Homo sapiens: one gene and its partners. The protein of the gene in region 3 purifies or fractionates together with the protein of the main gene of each other region. This does not show direct contact. Each region holds a gene or a part of one and is shown on either strand. Other genes may lie near its edges. The genes, in order: PPM1A, IDH3B, GDF3 and NPTX1.

The links.
Region 1: the proteins of GDF3 (region 3) and PPM1A purify together in Homo sapiens (affinity purification with mass spectrometry; 3 studies listed by BioGRID and IntAct, with this or other methods). This does not show direct contact.
Region 2: the proteins of GDF3 (region 3) and IDH3B purify together in Homo sapiens (affinity purification with mass spectrometry; 3 studies listed by BioGRID and IntAct, with this or other methods). This does not show direct contact.
Region 4: the proteins of GDF3 (region 3) and NPTX1 purify together in Homo sapiens (affinity purification with mass spectrometry; 2 studies listed by BioGRID and IntAct, with this or other methods). This does not show direct contact.

The regions. Positions count from the first base shown.
Region 1 is NC_000014.9:60,280,092-60,287,258, reverse strand, and holds part of PPM1A (protein phosphatase 1A), read right to left. Parts: intron 4,576-7,167; coding exon of another isoform or gene 4,556-4,575; coding exon 3,722-4,555; intron 1,636-3,721; coding exon 1,518-1,635; coding exon of another isoform or gene 1,495-1,517; exon of another isoform or gene 1-1,494. UniProt on the Homo sapiens protein: Enzyme with a broad specificity. Negatively regulates TGF-beta signaling through dephosphorylating SMAD2 and SMAD3, resulting in their dissociation from SMAD4, nuclear export of the SMADs and termination of the TGF-beta-mediated signaling.
Region 2 is NC_000020.11:2,657,834-2,661,322, forward strand, and holds the end of IDH3B (isocitrate dehydrogenase [NAD] subunit beta, mitochondrial isoform a precursor), read right to left. Parts: intron 3,137-3,489; coding exon 3,076-3,136; intron 2,997-3,075; coding exon 2,864-2,996; intron 2,758-2,863; coding exon 2,624-2,757; intron 2,533-2,623; coding exon 2,430-2,532; intron 2,344-2,429; coding exon 2,197-2,343; intron 1,961-2,196; coding exon 1,866-1,960; intron 1,753-1,865; coding exon 1,692-1,752; intron 1,480-1,691; coding exon of another isoform or gene 1,420-1,479; exon of another isoform or gene 1,182-1,419; intron 1,005-1,181; coding exon 918-1,004; 3' UTR 690-917; coding exon of another isoform or gene 609-689; 3' UTR 562-608; downstream 1-561. Other genes in the region: NOP56 (nucleolar protein 56), read left to right, coding at 96-461. UniProt on the Homo sapiens protein: Plays a structural role to facilitate the assembly and ensure the full activity of the enzyme catalyzing the decarboxylation of isocitrate (ICT) into alpha-ketoglutarate.
Region 3 is NC_000012.12:7,689,135-7,692,793, forward strand, and holds the end of GDF3 (growth/differentiation factor 3 preproprotein), read right to left. Parts: intron 1,571-3,659; coding exon 744-1,570; 3' UTR 650-743; downstream 1-649.
Region 4 is NC_000017.11:80,473,510-80,480,615, reverse strand, and holds the start of NPTX1 (neuronal pentraxin-1 precursor), read left to right. Parts: upstream 1-4,008; 5' UTR 4,009-4,169; coding exon 4,170-4,613; intron 4,614-4,897; coding exon 4,898-5,105; intron 5,106-7,106. UniProt on the Homo sapiens protein: May be involved in mediating uptake of synaptic material during synapse remodeling or in mediating the synaptic clustering of AMPA glutamate receptors at a subset of excitatory synapses.

The DNA of each region.
Region 1 (7,167 bases), on a different chromosome or scaffold from region 3:
AACTTATTATTGTAACAAAATAACGTAAAGTGAATATTTCATAATTCCATCTAAAACTTAAAGTGTACACACTAAAGAGAAAAGTAGCAATTCATTTCTAAAATTGGATCCCATTTCATAGTAAAAATATTAAAATACTTATTACTTCTTTAAACCAATAAGAAAACATGTCTGCCCAAGTTAAAGTGCCAATACATTAAATATCAACTTATCCCTATACATATTATTCTTATGAATTTAAATTTTCCCATGAATCAATAGTTTGAACCAATGATTGTAGCATTCTAAATATTTTAAAATTGTACTATACCTATAAATAACTTATATTGAATGATTAATTTAAAATATAAAAATTCCAAGACCCTTGGTAACAGTAAGGAGACAAATTCGTTGAATAGTACGTCCAATGAATGCAATACTAAATAGTACAAACACATACTAGATGTATGACTATCAAGTGGCGGACAGCAATAAAAACAAAATAGTAGCTCTAGACAGTACTAAAGAACAAAACCAATCATGATTCTAGTATCAGACTGATTATGATTGGTATCAAACAGTAAAAAGGGGAAAAAAAATTAAAGTGAGTAGTAATTTCAATAATGCAGGCACAGTGGGATGTAGGTGTGGTAGGTCAATGCTTGCATGCGATTAGAGGTCTTTAACGTGCAAATTAACGACATTAGGAGCCTAAAATGCATTTTAACGCTATTTTTAAAATTTTTTTCTTGTTTTTTTTCTACCTCAGCTCACCAGCATTTTCATGTTTTAACACTATTAAAGTCATGTCAAGTTTTTCCACTTAGAGAAACTGCATAATATATACACTTTACTGCATATATGCAATAAACTGGAAGTCTCTGCAGAATTATGAGAAATATACTCCAGAAATGCTCAACTTATTTCTTAATCTTACTTGGCAGTTACTTTTCTGCCAGGTGGAGAAATATTATGTCTTTTATTGAGGTCTATCTTGTTTAGGTGAGACAGTTTATGGCTTAGGGAAGAAGCTCTGAAACAGTTTAAAGCAAATTTTTTAAAGCTGTGTATATAAAGTTGCTAATGATGAGGCTGTGATTTTCAAGTTATTGAAAAAAGGCCCTAGAGATTAAAATTAATATACACAGCTTTTCATAGAAAGATGGTATTCAAATTATCACCATCACAATCTCTTTGTAATTAAATAGACCACAAATCAGATTTTCCCGGCATAAAATTACTCATGCCAGTGAATTCATTAAGAATTTTAAAGCACACAAACATTTTAGCCTTTTAAAACAAAAGTATCCTGAACAGAATGTGGGTTACTTTCCACACTAGTTGTTATTTCTAATATAACTGTGATAGGACAACTGCATACATCTTAACAGCTACTACAGAAATGTCCTTTTCCACTTTCATACACTAGACACTAGCTGTCAAAGACACATAAAAATCTAAAAGCTAAAATGTTAAAGTTTGATTGTGTTGAAGATTTTTCTTTAATAAAGCTACTTATTTTTTGTTAAATGATCCACCTTCTACTCTGCATTCCAGGTACTTGTCCAACTCTGCCTCCTTCTTCACTGCTTCTGGCGATACTTTGGGTGCATTTGGAAAACAGATCAAAATCACACTCATGTTGTCTCGACTTCCCTGGGAAGAAAAAAATTTGAGAATATTTTAGTTTTCTTTTTGCTCTTCAAAGCCTTGAGAACCTTTACAGCTGTGCCAATTACAGTTATACTTGTTCTAGTGAAAATGTTACTTTCAGGGAGAAAAAAATACATATGTGCACGCATGCGTGCGTGTGTGTGTGCAATGACTCCCCCTCCCCCGAACAGTATAGAGAGAATACAGTATAACCAATACTCCAAAAGACAGGAGAGAAACATTACAGGTTAATCTCACTGTAATAATAATTTTTTATAATTCTATAAAACAATACTATTTCTAAACATTTACTGGTGACTTAATTTGAAGTGATACCTAATACAAATATACATGTGTACACACACTCCTTCCATACAACATGACAGAAAATTTTAGTGGCATTGTTTACAATAGGATTTGACCTGTAGTTATATGTACCTGATAAAATTACCTTTAAAATAAATTATAAATTGTGGGGCTAATACATTCGCTTCATAAGTAGAAATATGAAATAAGAGGTAAAACTACCTAAGGTTTATAAACCAGCTTTTAACTTGTATTAATTTTAAAAACTGACAACTTTTAGGAACTACATTCATTTTTAAAGACATCTAAGTATTCAAATGCTATAATTAAATATTTGAGTATCAAATATATACCCTCAGAAGAATTTTAAAAAGTCAACATTTGTTTAAAAAAACATCAAAGAATAAGTTAATAAGCATTATTGACAAAACAGAACAGAGTGTGGCAGAAAGAACACTGAACCCAAGTCAAGGGCCTTGATTTTCTAGTCTTAATGCTGTTAGCAATGTATAAAACCCTGTACACGTCATTTATAATATCTGTAGGAAAGGGTGTAGCATGTATTATATGCTAAACTAGGCATTATATATATATATATGTATATATATATATACACACACACATATATATATATATACATACGCTCATTAATTCCTCAACAGTCTTTTTTTTTTTTTTTGAGACGGAGTCTCGCTCTGTCGCCCAGGCTGGAGTGCAGTGGCGCGATCTCGGCTCACTGCAAGCTCCGCCTCCCGGGTTCACGCCATTCTCCTGCCTCAGCCTCCCGCGTAGCTGGGACTACAGGCGCCCGCCACCACACCCGGCTAATTTTTTGTGTTTTTTAGTAGAGACGGGGTTTCACTGTGTTAGCCAGGATGGTCTCGATCTCCTGACCTCGTGATCCGCCCACCTCGGCCTCCCAAAGTGCTGGGATTACAGGCGTGAGCCACCGCGCCCGGCAACAGTCTTATAAGATACTATTATCTCCATTTTAAAGCTGAGAGAGGTTGAACAATTCGTTCAGGAATGTAGAGTACAAAACTAATAGAGGTAAGCCTTGGTCTCAGGTCTGTCTGACTCTTAAGTTTGTAGAACCTTCTCTGGCTTCAGCTTCCTCATCTGTAAAATAAAGGGGCTGAGCTAGCTCACCTGTGTATATTATCCCATTTGATCCTCCTGACAACGCCATGAGACAAGATAATAATGTCTTATCCTTTTTATGATGAAAAAAACTGATTAGAGTTTAAATAGCTTACCTAAAACCATACACAGTCTCAGAGCAAGTTCTTCTGACTCCATGTACAAGGCTATTTCTATTACATCACGTCTAATGATCACTACATTCCTCTTTCAAGTGCTACAGACCATTAAACCTTAGTTTCAAAGGATTAGGATATCATAAATGTACTGAGATATCACATGGTCAAATATTAAAACTCTAAAATGCTTTTCATTTATAGACACTGAGGCCTAACCCTCCCCACCCTCTTTCTTTCAAAACATGCACTCTGATAAAATCTTTTTACCTTTGATAATCTTCCACATTATTACAAAGCTCAAGTAGTAAGACTAAACATTCAGCTTATAACTCTTGCAGAGATGGTAATTGGGTAATTTATTTCTACATAGTGGTCCTATGATATATTTTCATAATTGGTGAACAGTATCCTACAGTTGTGCCAAAAACTGGTTTCAGAATTACAGATTCTAAGATGATTAAATACTAGAGTAGTGATTAATATGGCATAAAATCATTTTATGTTTTTAAAAAAAGTCTAGCTACCTTATACAAACAGGTGTCGACTACTTCATTGCAAACTTTCTCAAGGTCATCAGTGACTTCAAGTCTGGATCTTACAAAATCACAGAGCTCTTCATTTCCCATAACATCCCAGATACCATCACATGCAAGGATAATGAACTGATCATCTTCTTCAGATCTTTCAATATCATGGACTTCAGGCTCTGGTGAGACAAGCTGCTCAGTAGGACCTTTTCCATGGACACATTTGTAATCAAAATCCCCAAGGGCCCTCGATACAGCCAGAGAGCCATTCACACGCTGAATCATTACAGAGCCACCTGCATTCTGAATTCGTTCTTTCTCCAGCGGATTACTTGGTTTGTGATCTTGTGTGAAGAAATGAACTTTCCTGTTCCTACAAAGTAAACCTCTTGAGTCTCCACAGTTAATGAAATAAGTATGTTGGGGAGAAATTAAGACACCTACAGCTGTTGACCCACTTCTATCTGCACCATGTTTCTTCTCTGACATAACTCTCATGTGTTCATCAATCTCCAGAAAACCTGTTCTGATTCCATTCTTTACATTTTCCACAGAAGGTGCTCCTGCAGACCCTTTAAAATCCTGGTTATTGGTGATGTGATCTAACAAATGCTCACAGCAGTATTTGGCAACCTGAGAACCAGCATGCCCATCATACACAGCAAAGAATGACCACGATTCAAGTCCACTTGGCAAACCGATCACAGCCGTATGTGCATCCTCCATTTCAACACGCCAGCCTTGCATGCTGCTTAGCCCATATCGCAACCCATTACCCTGCCCCTGGGCATTATGCTTTTCCATCTTTGGCTTGTCTAAAAATGCTCCCATTATGTCTTGATCCTCTAGGTCTGCAAAGGAAGAGAAACAGGAAAGTCAATAACTGTCTTATAAACAAAATATGTACCAAACAATCTTTTTAATAAGTGAAAGAGATATGCGGGAATTCACAACTCGCGATAAGCAGACATTCATTGTGTTGCTGACTTGGAATCTGGAGATTAACAAGGAGGAACTGGGGGAAAGCCTGATGAAGCACAGATCACAACAGACAAAAAGGCAGAAAAAAACTAAAGCATTGGGATAAAGGGGAGAAGGCAGAAAGGAGACCTGGCAGTGGCCATCAACTTAAACCAACCAGGCTAAATGTTTAATGATACAATGAACATGTGTAAGCTCAGGACTAAGTTGTATGTATATCAATTAAGAAAAGCCAAACGAATTCATGACATACCCAAAAAATCTACTAACTCAAATATATCTTGGTTGAACATTCAGGAATTTTCAAGCTTGATTCCAAACTCCCTAGTTTTATTCCCACTGCATGAACTCTGAAAAACTAAAAAATAATCTACTCACAATGCTCCAAATTTGCATGCTCCTTCAAGCCTTTGCTCATGTCAGTTTCCTTAACTGGAAACTCTTGCCTCATCCTATTTATAGAAAAAAGTATACCTATCCTTTTAAGTCTACCTTACATTCTACCTTTTCCATGAGGTTTTTCAGTTTTTGATAAAGTCAGTTAAGTTATTAAATTACTGTAAATGTTGTAGCCTCAAATTTCAAGTTGCAAGCAATTATATATATACATAACGAAGTGTACTGTATACATATATAACAAAATTACTACTAGTAATCTATTAATCATATAGTAATAACATGTACCATTATTATTATACTCTATGACCATTAGGTATATAAAGAAGATCAAAGGGTCTAGTGACAGCCCTGCTGACAAGCCTGAAGGCTCAGCTAATCTAATCCTTTTCCAATACTCAAAAGTTAACACCCGCTGGTCTAGAATGGGCCCACACAAGGCAAAGAGACAGCTGGTTAGAATTTACCTTGGCCCTTACTTGAACAATAGCTTAGAAATGTAGACACCTGGGTTCAAGTAATCAAGTAAGTCACAACTGAACTAAAGGCAATCCAAAAGAAGGATAGCATGATGAACAGAGATTTAATGGAGGTGAAGAGGAGTTAGGTAGTAGGGAATAATGGTGGAGAAAAGTATCTAGGTAAATCACTACGCAGCTCTGAAACTAGGGTATTGATGATGCTAATGATACTCAGCTCAGAGAGGAAACTGGGAGAAAAAGGGCAAGAAGAAAATCCTCCTAGGAAGGAAAGAAAAACATTTGTTTTCCCCTTCATTTTCCTTATAGGTCCAAACTGATACATAGGCAGAAAAGACTGGCTGATTGGCGTGATAAAACCATCTGCCTACTCCTCTGCCTCCTAGTACAGTTCAACTAACGAAAGGTAAGTAATGAAAACTAGCTATCATCCATCCCTTATGGTGATATTTATCAGATTATTTTTCTGACATCAAGTTGATACACACTGCAAAGGTGAGTATTTTGATTGGATAAAGGATAACGTAATAATGACACCTTATTAGCAGGCAATGTTTAAGAAGTATTCTAAGTCCCTCTGGTAAGTGTTTTACAAGCATTACTTCATTTAATCTCTTCAACAACTCTCTAAGGTAGATAATAATATTATCTCCAATTTATAGATGAAGAACCTTAGCCAAGATTAAAGAACTTGGCCAAGATCACTCAACTAATAAGTTTAAAGGAATCAGGGCTCTGATTCAAGTCTGCGTGACTCTAAAGCATCATTAACCCCTAAGAAAATGGGTCTCTACCATGGCTGTGCAACAGAATTATCTGTGGACTTTTTGAAAAATAAATATTTCCAAATCAGAATTTCCAGGGTAGGGTTGGAACCTAGGTATCTATGATTTTTAAATTTTCATATGTGATTCTGAGGCACAGTAAGGTTGCAAACTGCTGGAAAAGATTAGATGGAATGCCTAAGGCAGAAGATGGGGGCACATTAAGGGCCAACAAGAAATAATCAACCAAAATTGCAGTAACCAAGACCACTATCCTAGGTTACAAGACCACTATCCTAGACTAGAAACAACAAGGTGAAGTTTTACAGAGGAAAGACTCCACTACCTTGAGAAAAGGAAAGAAAAAAAGAGACGTGAGTGAAACTCAAAAAATTAAACACATTTAAGAGACAAACCAACAGAAAAGAATAGTAATGACAAACTTCCTTCCTCTACGAATTCACCAATAGCATGAAGTACTAAAGAAAATAAGTTATGAAATTAGACCAATGTGGGTTTAAATTCTGGCTCTACTACTTAGTAATAGTGTGACTACTGAACCTTTCCGAATCTCTTTCTCCATCTGTTCCTGTATAAGCATATAAGAAGGCAGCCAGGTGTGGTGGCTCACGCCTGTAATCCCAGCACTTTAGGAGGCCGAGGTGGGTGGATCATGAGGTCAGGAGTTCTAGACCAGCCTGGCCAATATGGTGAAACCCCGTCTCTACTAAAAATACAAAAATTAGCCAGGCATGGTGGCGCATGCCCGTAATCCCGGCTACTTGGGAGGCTGAGGCAGAAGAATGGCTTGAACCTGGAGGCA
Region 2 (3,489 bases), on a different chromosome or scaffold from region 3:
TGTTAACGACACGCGTTCCCCTGCCTTGGCTACTTAATTGCTGAAGATGTAATGAGCACTGTTCTCACAGCCTGTTCCCCTGTCCTTCCCTTTAGGAGATGAGTGAAAAACCCAAAAAGAAGAAAAAGCAAAAGCCCCAGGAGGTTCCTCAGGAGAATGGAATGGAAGACCCATCTATCTCTTTCTCCAAACCCAAGAAAAAGAAATCTTTTTCCAAGGAGGAGTTGATGAGTAGCGATCTTGAAGAGACCGCTGGCAGCACCAGTATTCCCAAGAGGAAGAAGTCTACACCCAAGGAGGAAACAGTTAATGACCCTGAGGAGGCAGGCCACAGAAGTGGCTCCAAGAAAAAGAGGAAATTCTCCAAAGAGGAGCCGGTCAGCAGTGGGCCTGAAGAGGCGGTTGGCAAGAGCAGCTCCAAGAAGAAGAAAAAGTTCCATAAAGCATCCCAGGAAGATTAGAATGCAAATGGACATTCTCTGGGAGGTGGGGCATACCATAGCCCAAGGTGACATTTCCCACCCTGTGCCGTGTTCCCCAATAAAAACAAATTCACAAGAGTTGGTTCATGTTCTTTATTGAACACCTTACATGGGTATGGACAGGGCCTATGGGTGGGGCAAGGCAGCAATGACAGCCTCAGTGAAGTCATGGCAAGTAGCATAGCCACCCATGTCAGAGGTTCGAACCTGTGGGGGAGAATCATCATCATCCATGTGGCCTGGGCTCCATCCTAACAATCCCCATCACCACCCAACAGTCTGTCCCCTAAGGAAGCCGGCCCAAGGACAACCTAGGCTCTACCCAGCAAGGTGACCATGGTCCACTGCTTAGAGGCACAAGGTCTCTTCCCTGGTACACTGCACTGAAGGGTATGGGGAGTGTGGTCCTTGCAAGGTTGGAAGAAATAAAGGGCTCTAGCTCCCTTTAGTCTGCAGGTGACCGATGACAGACTTGATGAAGTCGGTTGTGGTGCTGTAGCCGCCCATGTCTCGAGTCCGCACCTACAGCCACCACCGGCAACAGCCGTGGGGAGGGAGAAAAGAGAGCCCATGAAGGGAGGTAGGGCAATGTGATTGAGGAAATGGAAGCCAAGAATGCGTGACAGCCAGAAAAAAGGCAATGCACAGGAATGGAAGGAGGAGCCAGGATGGGAAGCACATGGACCTGCCACTCCTCTTAAGCCACTATTAGCTGTGCTGCAGCCAGGGCAGGACAGGAGGCTGAGCAGGCAAAGATGATGGGAAACGCAGATCAGAGGCAGGATGTGGCTACCTTCCTTGGAAGAAATAGAGACAAGACCAGGTGGAAGGAAAGAATCACAGCGAAAAGGAGATGGGGCGTGAAGGTGAAGCTGATGCTTCAGCCTGCCTGTATCCCTTGCTGTTCCACCCCCAAGGAGAGCTGCAAGTTCTGCATTCAGATGGCCCATGAAAAGGGCAGTGGATGGAGCAGGAAAGAGGGAACAGCAGATGGGATCTAAGAGGCAAAAGAGATCAAGAGGATGAAACAGCCAAGAGAAGGGAGATGAAGAACAGCCCTGAGAGGGATGCAGGGATGTCAGGGAGCAGATGTTCTGGGGACCTGGGGGGAAAGGAGACCCCCATTCAGGTTCCCCAGAGGGTAGTGCCGAGGTGCTGACACCAGAACTACTCTAAATCCTGAAGCCAGCACTACTCTTCTCAACTCACCTTGCCAACTTTGATCACCTTCTTCACCGCATCTGCGATCATGCTGGAGTGATACTCAAGACTGTGGATATGGACAGGAAGAAACTGTGACTCCCCCAAGACACCTCCCGCTAATTTCCCCACCTGCTCCTCCTCACGACACCCAACCTCTGCCGACAGCCTCCCATGACCTACTTAAGATGCCGCAGCATGTTGGAAGCCGACAGCAGCATGGCCGTGGGATTGGCTATATTCCTGCCCACTGCCTGGGCAAATGGGTGCCGGGCACCCTGTGGAGAGAGGGGCAGGCTAGACACTGGGAGGAGGCAGGAGGGGTATGCAGAGGCTTAGGTTGGAAAAGGACATTATGGGAGGGGGAGCTCAGGCCAGGGTCACTGAAAAGAGGCATGGTGGGCAGCGTGGGGGAAGAACAGGCCAAGATCACTTAGGAAGTGGAGATATTGGGATGGGAGAGGAATGGCGGACTTGAGGTCAGAGGAAGGGCCGAGGGAGAAAGCAGCCTCACCGTCTCAAAGACTGCGTATTCTGCACTATAGCTCTCACCAGGGACCACACCAGCTCCCCCAACCAGGCCAGCAGCCAGATTGTCAATAATGTTCCCATAGAGATTGGGCATCACAAGCACATCAAACTGGTAAGGATTCTGCACCAGCTAGAGGGTGAGATGCAGGCATGAAGTAAATTCCACTCCCCACCCTCCTCCTCCGCCCCATGAGTAGAGATGTGGGGAGGCCTCACCTGCATGCAGCAGTTGTCTATGATCATTGTCTCAAATTTGATTTTGGGGTACAGTTCAGCAACTTCCTCACAGCACTGCAGGAACAACCCATCCCCAAGTTTCCTGTCCATGGGCCAAAGGGGACAGAATCAGCCAAGAAAGTACAGGGGCTACCTTCCCAGGAACCCATCCTACACAAAGCCATGCCCCTCACATGATGTTGGCCTTGTGGACAGCAGTGACCTTGCCCCGCCCCTTCTTGGTGGCATAGTCAAAGGCGAACTTTGCAATCCGCTGAGACTTGGCTCGTGTGACAATCTTCAAACACTCAATCACACCCCTTGCACTCTGGGTAAGAAGAAAGCAGCAGCTAGGTGACACTGGGAAGGGAAACAAGGAGCTCCACCTCTCTCCCATCTTCATCCTTGCCCTCCCCCAGTTTCTGGGGCCTCACCTCATGTTCCAGAGAGCTGTACTCCCCTTCTGTCTGCTCTCGAATGATCACCAGGTCTAGATTGTTGTGCCGAGTCATATACCCAGGAAGTGACTTCACATGGACTACGTTGGCAAATAAGTCCAACTTACGCCTGAGGGTGGGCAGGGCCATCAGCTCTGCTCCTGGTGCCCTGGCACCTCTCAACCATTCACCCCACCCAGACCACCTACCTCAGCCGCATATCATAGGAGGCTAGCTCCCCCTTATACTCCATCGGGGTATGAATCTTTCCTGTGAAAACAAAGTGGGAAAAGGAGTGTCAGCCACAGGCCAAGCCCAAGGGAACTCAGACCAGTGTCTAACCCCCTTAGGAACATCATGTAACCCAGACTCCCATCTCCCATTCCCACATCAGTAAACTTTTAAATTGTCTCTGGGGGCAAGGGACAAAAGAGAATAATGTAGTTAAAGCCAGAAACATTTCATCTATTGCATTTTCTGTGTGTGTGTGTGTGTGTGTGTGTGCGTGTGTGAGAGACACAGGGTCTCACTCTGTCGCCCAGGCTGGAGTGCAGTGGCACGACCTGGGCTCACTGCAACCTCTGCCTCCCAGGTTCAAGCAATTCTCCTGCCTCAGCCTCCCC
Region 3 (3,659 bases):
TTGAGACGGAGTCTTGCTCTGTTGCCAGGCTGGAGTGCAATGGCACGATCTCAGCTCACTACAACCGGTCTCCTGGGTTCAAGCGATTCCCGTGCCTCAGCCTCCCAAGTAGCTAGGACTACAGGCATGCACCACCATGCCCGGCTAATTTTTTGTATTTTAGTAGAGTCGGGGTTTCGCCATGTTGGTCAATCTGGTCTCGATCTTCTGACCTCATAATCCACCCACCTCAGCCTCTCAAAGTGCTGGGATTACAGGCGTGAGCCACCACACCCGGCCTCAAATATTTTTAATGTAATGCTGTTAGCATATCAGATTTGCCAGGGAGAGCCAGGGAGAGCTGCTGACCTTAGGAAAATTTGTTAGCTTCTCTAAACCTCAGCTTCTTTGTCTGTAAAGCATAAATAACAATACTTCCCTCAAAGACAGTGAAATGTTTGTAAAGTAACACGTAGGATAATGCCTGCCCATAATCGGCCATCAGTAAATGCCAGTGTCCATACTGTCATATGCATAATGAGTATGTTAGAACAGAAATTAACTATGATTATTAGGGCTCCAGGATGTGTGTGTGTGCACACGCATGCAAGTATGGGCATTGTTAATTATGGTGGGTTTTTCAGGAAGACAAATTATAAACACAGGTATATTGACATTTCGATCTAAGTGGTCATAAACCAGATAGGTAGTTTTATTAAAAGATTTACCCTAAGAACACTCCTTCTATTCCCATTTCTGACATCCTACCCACACCCACATTCATCGACTACCATGTCTTCATAATGTCGTAGAATGACATTGTCATTATTGTCCTGGTAGAGCATGGAAATGGGAGACAGCTTGGTGGGGATACACACAGCCTGGGGGATCTCTGGGTCAACGGCATGCATCAGGGCTTGCATGAAAGCATAATTGGAGCTGTTGAGAGAGATGGTCAGTGAGAAGGGACACTCTCCATGGCAGTAATTTGCCATGAACCCCTTGGGGGCAATGATCCACTTGTGCCAACCCAGGTCCCGGAAGTTAATGAATAGCTGGTGACGGTGGCAGAGGTTCTTACAAGAAAGCTTGGGGACAGGGATGGCTGCTCTCCTTTTCCGAGAAGGGTGGCACTGATCAGGGTTGAGAGTCACCACCAGCAGGGAAGCATGAAGGGAGCATCTTAGTCTGGCACAGGTGTCTTCAGGCTGAAAATTCACCCCTGAGTCTCTATCTTCTTTGACCAGTATCTCCAGGAATAACCCGAAATTTTTCCGGGGGTTGTCATTCCAATCCTTAGCTACATCCAGCAGGTTGAAGTGAACAGCACCTTGTGGCCATGGGACTGACCGCAACACAAACATTTTACCTGGCTTAGGGGTGGTCTGGCCCCACACATGAGGCTCCTGAACCAGGAACAGAGCCAGTTCCAGCTCTGGTCCCAGGTTATAGTAAGAATTGGGCCCCAAGTCCAGGCCCAGCTGGGCCAATGTCAACTGTTCCCTTTCTTTGATGGCAGACAGGTTAAAGTAGAGGAGCTTCTGCAGGCAGGAGGAAGCTTGGGAAATTTTCTTTGGGTAAAGAAAGAAACCTAGATGGGAAAAGAGACATGTCAGAGTCATAATGATGTATTTACTTCATATCCACCTATATAATAGAAATGCCAGACACCCACATATACAATATAAGGGCAGGGAAAGACACAAGCCCTGTCATTTGGGAGGGTTTGTTTCTCTATTCCTGAAAGCCAGAGGGTCCCCAGGTGCGGCGGCTCACGCCTGTAATCCCAGCACTTTGGGAGGCCGAGGCGGGCGGATCACGAGGTCAGGAGATCGAGACTATCCTGGCTAACATGGTGAAACCCCGTCTCTACTAAAAATACAAAAATTAGCCAGGCGTGGTGGCGGGCGCCTGTAGTCCCAGCTACTCAGGAGGCTGAGGCAGGAGAATGGCGTGAACCCGGGAGGCGGAGCTTGCAGTGAGCCGAGATCGCGCCATTGCACTCCAGCCTGGGTGACAGAGCAAGACTCCGTCTCAAAAAAAAAAAAAAAGAAAGCCAGAGGTTCTTATCTTCACATCCACAGGTTCCCAGAGATTCCTGGATGAAATGTAGAGGGTGCACGAACTTAGATGGGAAAAATAATTACATCATTATTTCCACTAAACTCTAAATGAAATTTAGCATTTCCTTCATTATGAATATAGGTAACAAATCCCAGTAATATCATCAGGGCCTATGACATTGTTATCAATAAAATCATAGGTGTGTTCATACGTTTAGTTGTTGCAAATAACTTAAAATATTTATGGAGTCCAGGCAAGGTGGCTCATGCCTGTAATCCCAGCACGTTGGGAGGCTGAGATGGGAGATTTGCTTGAGGCCAGGAGTTTGAGACCATCCTGGGCAACATAGTGAAACCCCATCTCTACAAAATAAATAAATAAATAAAAGAAAAGAAAAAGAAAAAAAAAAACAAAACACTTATGCTAACACTATGCCGAAATTTATGGTAGTTATAGGTATAGTCACCTCCCTAAATCTTGTTATGTATTACATGAATAAAGCATTATATATATTACTATATATACATTTGTCTTTAAAATATTTTAAAAGCCAGGCGTGGTGGCTCATGCCTGTAATCCCAGCACTTTGGGAGGCCGAGGCGGGCGGATCACGAGATGAGGAGATCGAGACCATCCTGGCTAACACGGTAAAACCCCATCTCTACTAAAAATACAAAAAATTAGCCGGGCAAGGTGGAGGGTGCCTGTAGTTCCAGCTACTCAGGAGGTTGAGGCAGGAGAATGGTGTGAACCCGGGAGGCGGAGCTTGCAGTGAGCCAAGATCACGCCACTGCACTCCAGCCTGGGCGACAGAGCAAGACTCTGCCTCAAAAAATAAAAAATAAATAAAAAATAAAAAAAGTTTTAAAAAAATTTTAAAATGTATTTCAATATTTAATTGGTTTCTTTTGAAATCCTAAATATTTTACTTTAGGCACTTAAACCATTATTCTGAGAAAGAGTCAATAGACTGGGCCGGGACATGGTGGCTCACACCAGTGATCCCAGCACTTTGGGAGGCCAAGGCGGGCAGATAACCTGAGGTCAGGAGACCAGACTGACCAACATGGAGAAAACCTGTCTCTGCTAAAAATACAAAAAAATTAGCCGGGCAGGGTGGCACATGCCTGTAATCCCAGCTACTCGGGAGGCTGAGGCAGGAGCATCACTTGAATTTGGGAGGCAGAGGTTGTGGTGAGCCGATATCACACCATTGTACTCCAGCCTGGGCAACAAGAGCAAAACTCCGTCTCAGTTAAAAAAAAAAAAAAAATAGCAACCTAGACAGTCAGGTGTTGTTGGCCAAAGTCCAATCATTCAGATTGGCTTTAATTTTTTTTTTTTTTTTCTGAGACGGAGTCCTGCTCTGTTGCCCAGGCTGGAGTGCACTGGCTTGATCTCAGCTCACTGCAACCTCCGTCTCTCGGGTTCAAGCAATTCTCCTGAATCAGCCTCTGGAGTAGCTGGGATTACAGGTGCACACCACGTCTGGCTAATTGTATTTTTAGTAGAGACGGGGTTTCACCATGTTGGCCAGGCTGGTCTCAAACTCCTGACCTCAGGTGATCCGCCCACCTCGGCCTCCCAAAGTGTTGGGATTACAGGCAAAAGCCACC
Region 4 (7,106 bases), on a different chromosome or scaffold from region 3:
TGCATGAGCTCCCACCGTCCACTGAGTAAAGACTCTTGATGGGCACTGAGGTCCTCTTAATACCTCCCAACCTACCCGGCTAGCCTTCTTTTTTTAAAATTTTTTTTTTTGAGACAGGATCTTGCTGTGTTGCCCAGGCTGGAGTGCAGTGACGTGGTCTCGGCTCACTGCAGCGTCAACCTCTCGAGCTCAAACAATCCTCCCACTTCAGTCCCCAGAGTAGTTGGGACTGCAGGTGCACCCCACCATGCCTGGCTAATTTTTGTATTTTTGTAGAGATGAGATTTTGCCATGTTGTCCAGGCTGGTGTCAAACTCCTGGGCTCAAGAGATCCACCCACCTCGGCCTCCCAAAGTGCTGGGATTCAAGGCGTGAGCCCCTGCACCCGGTCTGTCTAGTCTTCTTATGCCTGGCCACCCTCTCCATACTGGCCACTAACCAGGGCCTCTCCTGGACACCTGCCCCCTTTGCCTTCTCTACACTCCCCCTCCCACTACCAACTAACCTCTGCAGGCCTCTCCGTGCCCTTCCACCAGGAGTGAGCTGAGCCGGCCAGTACCCACTGATGGTGGCATTTGCAGGAATTTCACAGGTCGATGGTTAAACACAGCCACTATTACATTTTAAACTAAGTAAACTTATAATTAAATAAATTATATTTTAAATGGGCAATAAATACTACAAACTCATCACTTTCTAATTATTTTCTTACATTGAACTATTGTCTATCTTTTTTTTTTTTGAGACACAGTATTGCTCTGTCATCCAGGCTGGAGTGCAGTGGTTCGATCTCGGCTCACTGCAACCTCTGCCTCCCAGGTTCAGGTGATTCTCCTGCCTCAGCCTCTCAAGTAGCTGGGATTACAGATGTGTGCCACCACACCTGGTTAATTTTTGTATTTTTGGTAGAGACGGGGTTTCACCATGTTGGCCAGGCTGGTCTCAAACTCCTGACCTCATGTGATCCAGCTTGGCCTTCCAAAGTGCTGGGATTACAGGCGTGAGCCACTGCGCCCAGCCTTGTCTATGCTTTTGAGTTTTATTCACATCTATTGCACCGTTATGGTGGGAGTAGTATAATAAGTACTATTGTGCTAGGCCGGGCGCTGTGGCTTGCACCTGTAGTCCCAAGACCAAGGCAAGAGGAGTTCAACCATCTCTACGAAAAAAACAAAAAAAATTAGCTGAAGTGTGGTGGTGCAGGAAGCATCGCTTGAGCCCAAGAGGTCGAGGCTGCAGTTAGCTGTGATTGCGCCACCGCACTCCAGCCTAGGCAACAGAGCAAGACCCTGTCTCAAAAATAAAATAACAGTGTGCTAGTGTGCATGGTTTCCCAATGAGTGAGGTCGTGTCACAGGCAGCCACAAATGTACGCGGCTGGGAATATTACGGGATCGCCTCCCTCACCCCAGCTGCATCTGGGGTGTGGGACTCAGGCAGGGCCGGGATCACTGGCTGTTCACAACACCATCCCCCCTCTTCCGACCTAGTAACCAGACACCCCGATGAGTTTGGGCAGGGCGGCCCTTCGTTTTCCTGCTCCCTCCCTCTCAGATACTTTCAGAACACTGGGGAGGCCGAGGGAATCCTAAATACGACCCTCCGCTTGCCCAGGGTCTTGTGAAGGAGAAACGCGGCATGGTGGCCCTCGCGTGTGTGTGCAGCGCCTGCAGGTGTCCCGCCCAGCGCCTCCTGCACAACAGTTGCAGGCTGGACCCGAGGGTCTCCTCTCCTGGGGCCCCACAGTGCCCAGAGGTCCCGCTAGCCCCAGACACCGCCCCAGGCTCCCCTCCCTTTCTGACGCCGTCCACTCCCTTCCTCTGCGGAAGGGGGACACGCTCCTCTGTGCCGAGGTGCCAGGCCGCTGAGATCTGCTGCCCTGGAGGAAAAGCCAGGCAGGGTCCCTGGCCTTGGGCGGCTAGGAAGGCTCCACGGCTGCTGGGGATAGAGACGCGGGGCCAGGCTAAGGGTTCCCGCCCCGTCTAAACAGCCTGCCCTGGGCAGGGCAGGGCTCCTCTCCCGCGCCCGCGCGCTCTCGGCTGGGCACGGTCCGGCTCCAGGCCTGACGGGCGCGGCCTCCCCACTGGACGCGTGCGGGAGGGCGGCGAGGCCAAAGCGCTGGGGCCAGGAGGGCACCCGCCTAGCGGCTCCCTACGGGAGTTGGGGCAGAAGACGCCGCGACCCCGCGCGGGTAATTTCTCCCGAGGCGCGTTCCAGCCCGTGGCGCTGCCGGCGCAGACCCCGCGTGGGGACCGGCGAGGCTAACCCCTCCTGCGGCCCGGGGTCGGCAGAGCACGCAAGGGGCCGCGGGCCGCGTGGGTTTGGGCGCGCCGTGGTGGGCAAGCGGGGCCAGCGGAGCGGGAACCCGCACACCCTCCGAGCGGAGCCGAGGACAGGCCCGTGCGGGCCGCGGGGTCCCTCTGGCGCCAGGAAGCGGCGGCCGAAGGAGACAACGAGAACGCAGCCCCGGCTCAGGGAGGCTTAAAAGCTGAGATGCTGAACGCAGACGGCGGGCGCTCGGGGGCTGGGGGGCGGGTAGAGGCCGCCATTTCTCAAAAAGGTCTCCATCGAGCCGGCCTCTGCTCCCGCCCGAGGGGCGGACGCCCGATCCCGGCACCCGGGACTGCCCGTGGGTCCCTGCTGGCTGGGGACCCCCAGCCCCCGGCTGCGCGCAGGGAAAGGCTGCAGAACGCAGAGACCAGAGAAGCCGGGGGCGGCGGGGAGGGGTCGGGGGGCCACGGCTGTAGCCCGGCCCCGCAGTCTCGGAGCCTCAGTTTCCTTCTCTGTACCACGGGAGCGTGGACGGAGGGATTTCCGAGGCTTTGACCGCTCTGATAGCCCCGGGGCGGGGCGGGGCGGGGCGGCTGCGCCAGCCCTGGTCCTGAGCCCCCAGCCCGGCGCCGGAACCCGGACCGCGATCTCGGGAGCCGAGCCCCGCGGTCCAGATGAAGGCGCGAGTGCGCGGGTGCCGGGTGGGGTGTCTGAGCGAGAGCGGAGCTTCTCAGGTGGACGCCCCCAGCCACCTCCGGGACCCTTCCTGCTGGCCTTTGGGCCTGAGAAGTGGGCGCGGCTGGACAGACGGGAAACAGCCCCCCACGCACAGGTGGACACCCGGGGATACCGGGCGCGCGCGGCGCCTGGCAAGGGGAAGCTGCTGGAGACGCGGGCGGCTGCTCCCGCGGGGCCCCCTTCCGAAGCGCCGCTGCGAACGTCCAGCCCCGGCGACGCCGCCTGCCCGCGATCGGGCCGGCGCCGCGGACAGGAAAGGCTCGATCAGCTAGGTCTGCCTCCGAGAAGTCCCCAGCGCCCCGCCCGCACGGGGTGGGGACTGACAGTCCCCCGGGGACGGGGCCGGGTCCACAGAGCCCGGGAGCTGGGGGAGGGGAGGCGCCGGGGGCCCCGACCCGTGGGAAGTCCCTGTACCCAGGCTGCCCGGCGGCTTCTCAATAGCACACGGACATCTAAGAAACGCGGGGCGGCCCGGTGACCCCCGCTCTGGACTTAGTGGCGCCGCGAGGCCCCACTCCGAGCCGTTGACCACCGGGCACTCGGGTGTTGACGACCTGGGTCCTTGGGCACCCAGCCCGGCTCCAAACGACCCCGGCCCAAGGGTGTTCAGTGCAGCCAGGAGGGCCGAACCGAATTCTATCTCCCGGACGCGGTGGTTTCCCGCCCGCCTGGAGCCCCGTCGGAGGTTCGGGGACACCACGCAGGTGGTCCATCCTCGAGTCCGGGGCCGGAGCCCGACTTCCTTCCCCCTGAGCTCTCGGAGCCTTCGGGGCAGCAGCGCCGGCCCAGGCGGGGGCGGGGGAGGAGGGGGCCGCGGCAGCTCCCAGAAGGGCGGGGGGGACGCGAGCGGAGGCAGCCCCGGTGGCGCGCTCGTGAGACCCCCGCCGCGCCGCGGGCCCGGGCCGCGGACAATTAAAGCGGGATTCCTCCCCCGCTGACGTCGGCGGCTCGAGGCCCCTCCCGCGGCGGCATAAAAGGCGCGGGCTCCGCAGCGCAGGCGGCAGTGGGGGCCTGATAGCGCGGCGGTGTGGACCGCGCGGCCGAAGAGCGCGGCGCCCAGAGCGCGGGCCGCTCGCGGAGCCACAGCCCGAGCCGGGTCCCAGCCGGAGCCGAGCCCCAGCCGAGCCGAGCCGGGCCCGGAGCGCCCGGTGCCCGCAGCCATGCCGGCCGGCCGCGCCGCGCGCACCTGTGCGCTGCTCGCCCTCTGCCTCCTGGGCGCCGGGGCCCAGGATTTCGGGCCGACGCGCTTCATCTGCACCTCGGTGCCCGTGGACGCCGACATGTGCGCCGCGTCCGTGGCCGCCGGCGGCGCCGAGGAGCTCCGGAGCAGCGTGCTGCAGCTCCGCGAGACGGTGCTGCAGCAGAAGGAGACCATCCTGAGCCAGAAGGAGACCATCCGCGAGCTGACCGCCAAGCTGGGCCGCTGCGAGAGCCAGAGCACGCTGGACCCCGGAGCCGGCGAGGCCCGGGCGGGCGGCGGCCGCAAGCAGCCCGGCTCGGGCAAGAACACCATGGGCGACCTGTCCCGGACACCGGCCGCCGAGACGCTCAGCCAACTCGGGCAAACTTTGCAATCGCTCAAAACCCGCCTGGAGAACCTCGAGGTCCGCGCGCGCCCTCGGCTCCGGTTCCCCCTCCGGCTCGCTCGCCCCTCTGCCCTCCCCCACCCCGTTCCCTACCCGGCCAGGCATCCCCCGCCCTCGCCTCAGCCGCGCGGGTGCCCGGCCGGTGCCTCCCCGCGCCTGCGAGGCCCCGCGGCGGCCACTCGCCCCAGCTCCCTGCCAGGCCGCCCCCGCAGTCGCCCAGAGGGGACCGCGCCGCGGGCCTTCCAGCACGGTCCCCGCGCCTCGCCTAACGGTGTGGTTTCCCCCGCCCTTGCACCCCGCAGCAGTACAGCCGCCTCAATTCCTCCAGCCAGACCAACAGCCTCAAGGATCTGCTGCAGAGCAAGATCGATGAGCTGGAGAGGCAGGTGCTGTCCCGGGTGAACACCCTGGAGGAGGGCAAGGGGGGCCCCAGGAACGACACCGAGGAGAGGGTCAAGATCGAGACCGCCCTGACCTCCCTGCACCAGCGGATCAGCGAGCTCGAGAAAGGTACTGGGGCCAGGGGGAGCCGTGCTGCCTGCCTGCACCTGCTTGCCCGACCCTGCCTCGGTCCCGATCCCTAACAGCCCAGCTCTGCACTGTGCAAGCCTCAAGCCGCTCCGCTACCCCCAACCCCTGCACCGCTTTCTCATTCCCCGCACCCCTTCCCAGGTTCTGGGCTTCTAGTCGGTGTTTCTATCAGGGCTGGGTGCCTTGGGCTGGGGCTGTCTCTGGGAAAGGGGATTGCATAGTGCCCCCTCCCCCATCCAGACACACTCACACACTCGCTGGATTTTTCAAGTCTGATTTGTTTAATCCTCAGTAACTTTGCACAGTGGCTGTCGCTGGCTCAAACCCTCCCTGCTTAAGAAAGCCTGTCTCTCCCTGGTCCCCAGCCTCAGCGTACAGCTGGGTGCAGGCTGGGGCTGGGCGCTCTCGTTCCCCGGGCCGCTGAGGCTGTTAAGCAGGTTTCTTCCCGGCTGCCATGCCCCCGGTGTCCTCTCAGGATCTCCAGCTCCTCCCCACTTCTGTCCTGAACCCCTACCCTGAGGTTTTCTTTTCTGAGTGACCCAAGTCCTGGCATCTTTCAAATCCCTGAGGTTTCTCAGTCACCAACTCAGGCCAGCCAGTCTATCACCCAGGGCGCCTGGATGAGCGCTGGAGGCTCTGTCTTGAAGTCGCAGAAATCAAACAAGGTTGTAAAAGGGGAGGGGGGGGGGTGCCCGGTGCGGAGCAAGGCCACGTGACCCTGCTCAGACCGCAAAATGTGCCGGACAGATTTAAACAGTGCCATCTTAAGGCTTGTTATGTAACTGAAAAACAGATCAGAAGGAAGGACCTCAGGAGGGAGGGAGAGGGAAGGAGCGGAGATTGGGGAATGAAAAACACCCGGAGAAAGGCCAGGGGCTGGGCCCCTCCCTATCCCCCACTGCAGGCCTCAATGGGTTGGGGTAGCCGCTGGGGTGCTGCACTGAGGGGGCCTGCCCTGCTCTGCTCCCTGCCAGTTGGTTTAGAGGAGGGGGTGGTTGCTGACCGGGCAGGATGTCTTCTAGAAATAATTTTTGGCCTGGGGAACTGGTTTCTTTCTGGGCTTCCTGGCAGGACCACGGCTGCTCACCCAGGGATTGACCAAGGGGTGTGTGTTCCTGGGCTCTGGGCCTGCTACTGTGCCCATTGCTGGCCAGGAATGTTTTGCCTGGAGTCAGTCACACCATACCCAGGGTGCCACAGTATATAGATGGGCTATGGGGGTTGGCGCTTACGGGAGAAGTGGCCGGTGGGGAGGGAGAAGGTGGGCCTTGTGGAAAGGGAGGCCACCAGGCCTGGAACCTGAGCTGTGAGGACACTTACTCACCTGAGAGTGTGGCGGCATCCTAGAGCAGTCACCTTGGGGAGCCCTGGCGCCCAGAGTACTCCCAGCTCCTTGCTGCCCTGCCCTCTCAGCAGAGCTCCAGGCAGAGTCCCTGCTCCAAGGAAGGGCCTTGGAGGTGGGGAGCTGCCCAGCCTCACACCCAAGAGGCATTGGTGGGTCAGAGGCACATCTGGCCTGGAGGGAAGTGTGTGGGCACCAGGGCCTGGCTGTCGGGTGGGGAGAGGCAGGAGCAGAGCCTGGGATTGAGCGAGGAGAGGCTCTGAGCCCCGCCCCATCCTGGAATCAGGTCGGTTACTCTCAGGGTAGCTAGCCTCGTTCCTCCTCTGCAGCCACCCCTGCTCCTTGGGTTGACTTGGCTTGGCGGCTGTCCCCATTCCCTTCTCATGCCCACCACGCAGCCCAGTGTTGATGCAGCAGCCCACCAGGCACTGCCCCCCACCCCCATCTCCCCAAGGATGCCAGCACATGGGCGTGACAGCAGGCCAGACCTGGAGCATGAAGAGCTTGGGTCAGCTCTTTACAGACTGGCCCTGTGCCTTGGGGCAAAGTACTTGACCTGGGAAGCTACCCGCTCTGCGTCTCCAGAATGGAGACCGGAGCCTGCCCTGGCCACGCATCACAGAGCTTGGTGGGGACCG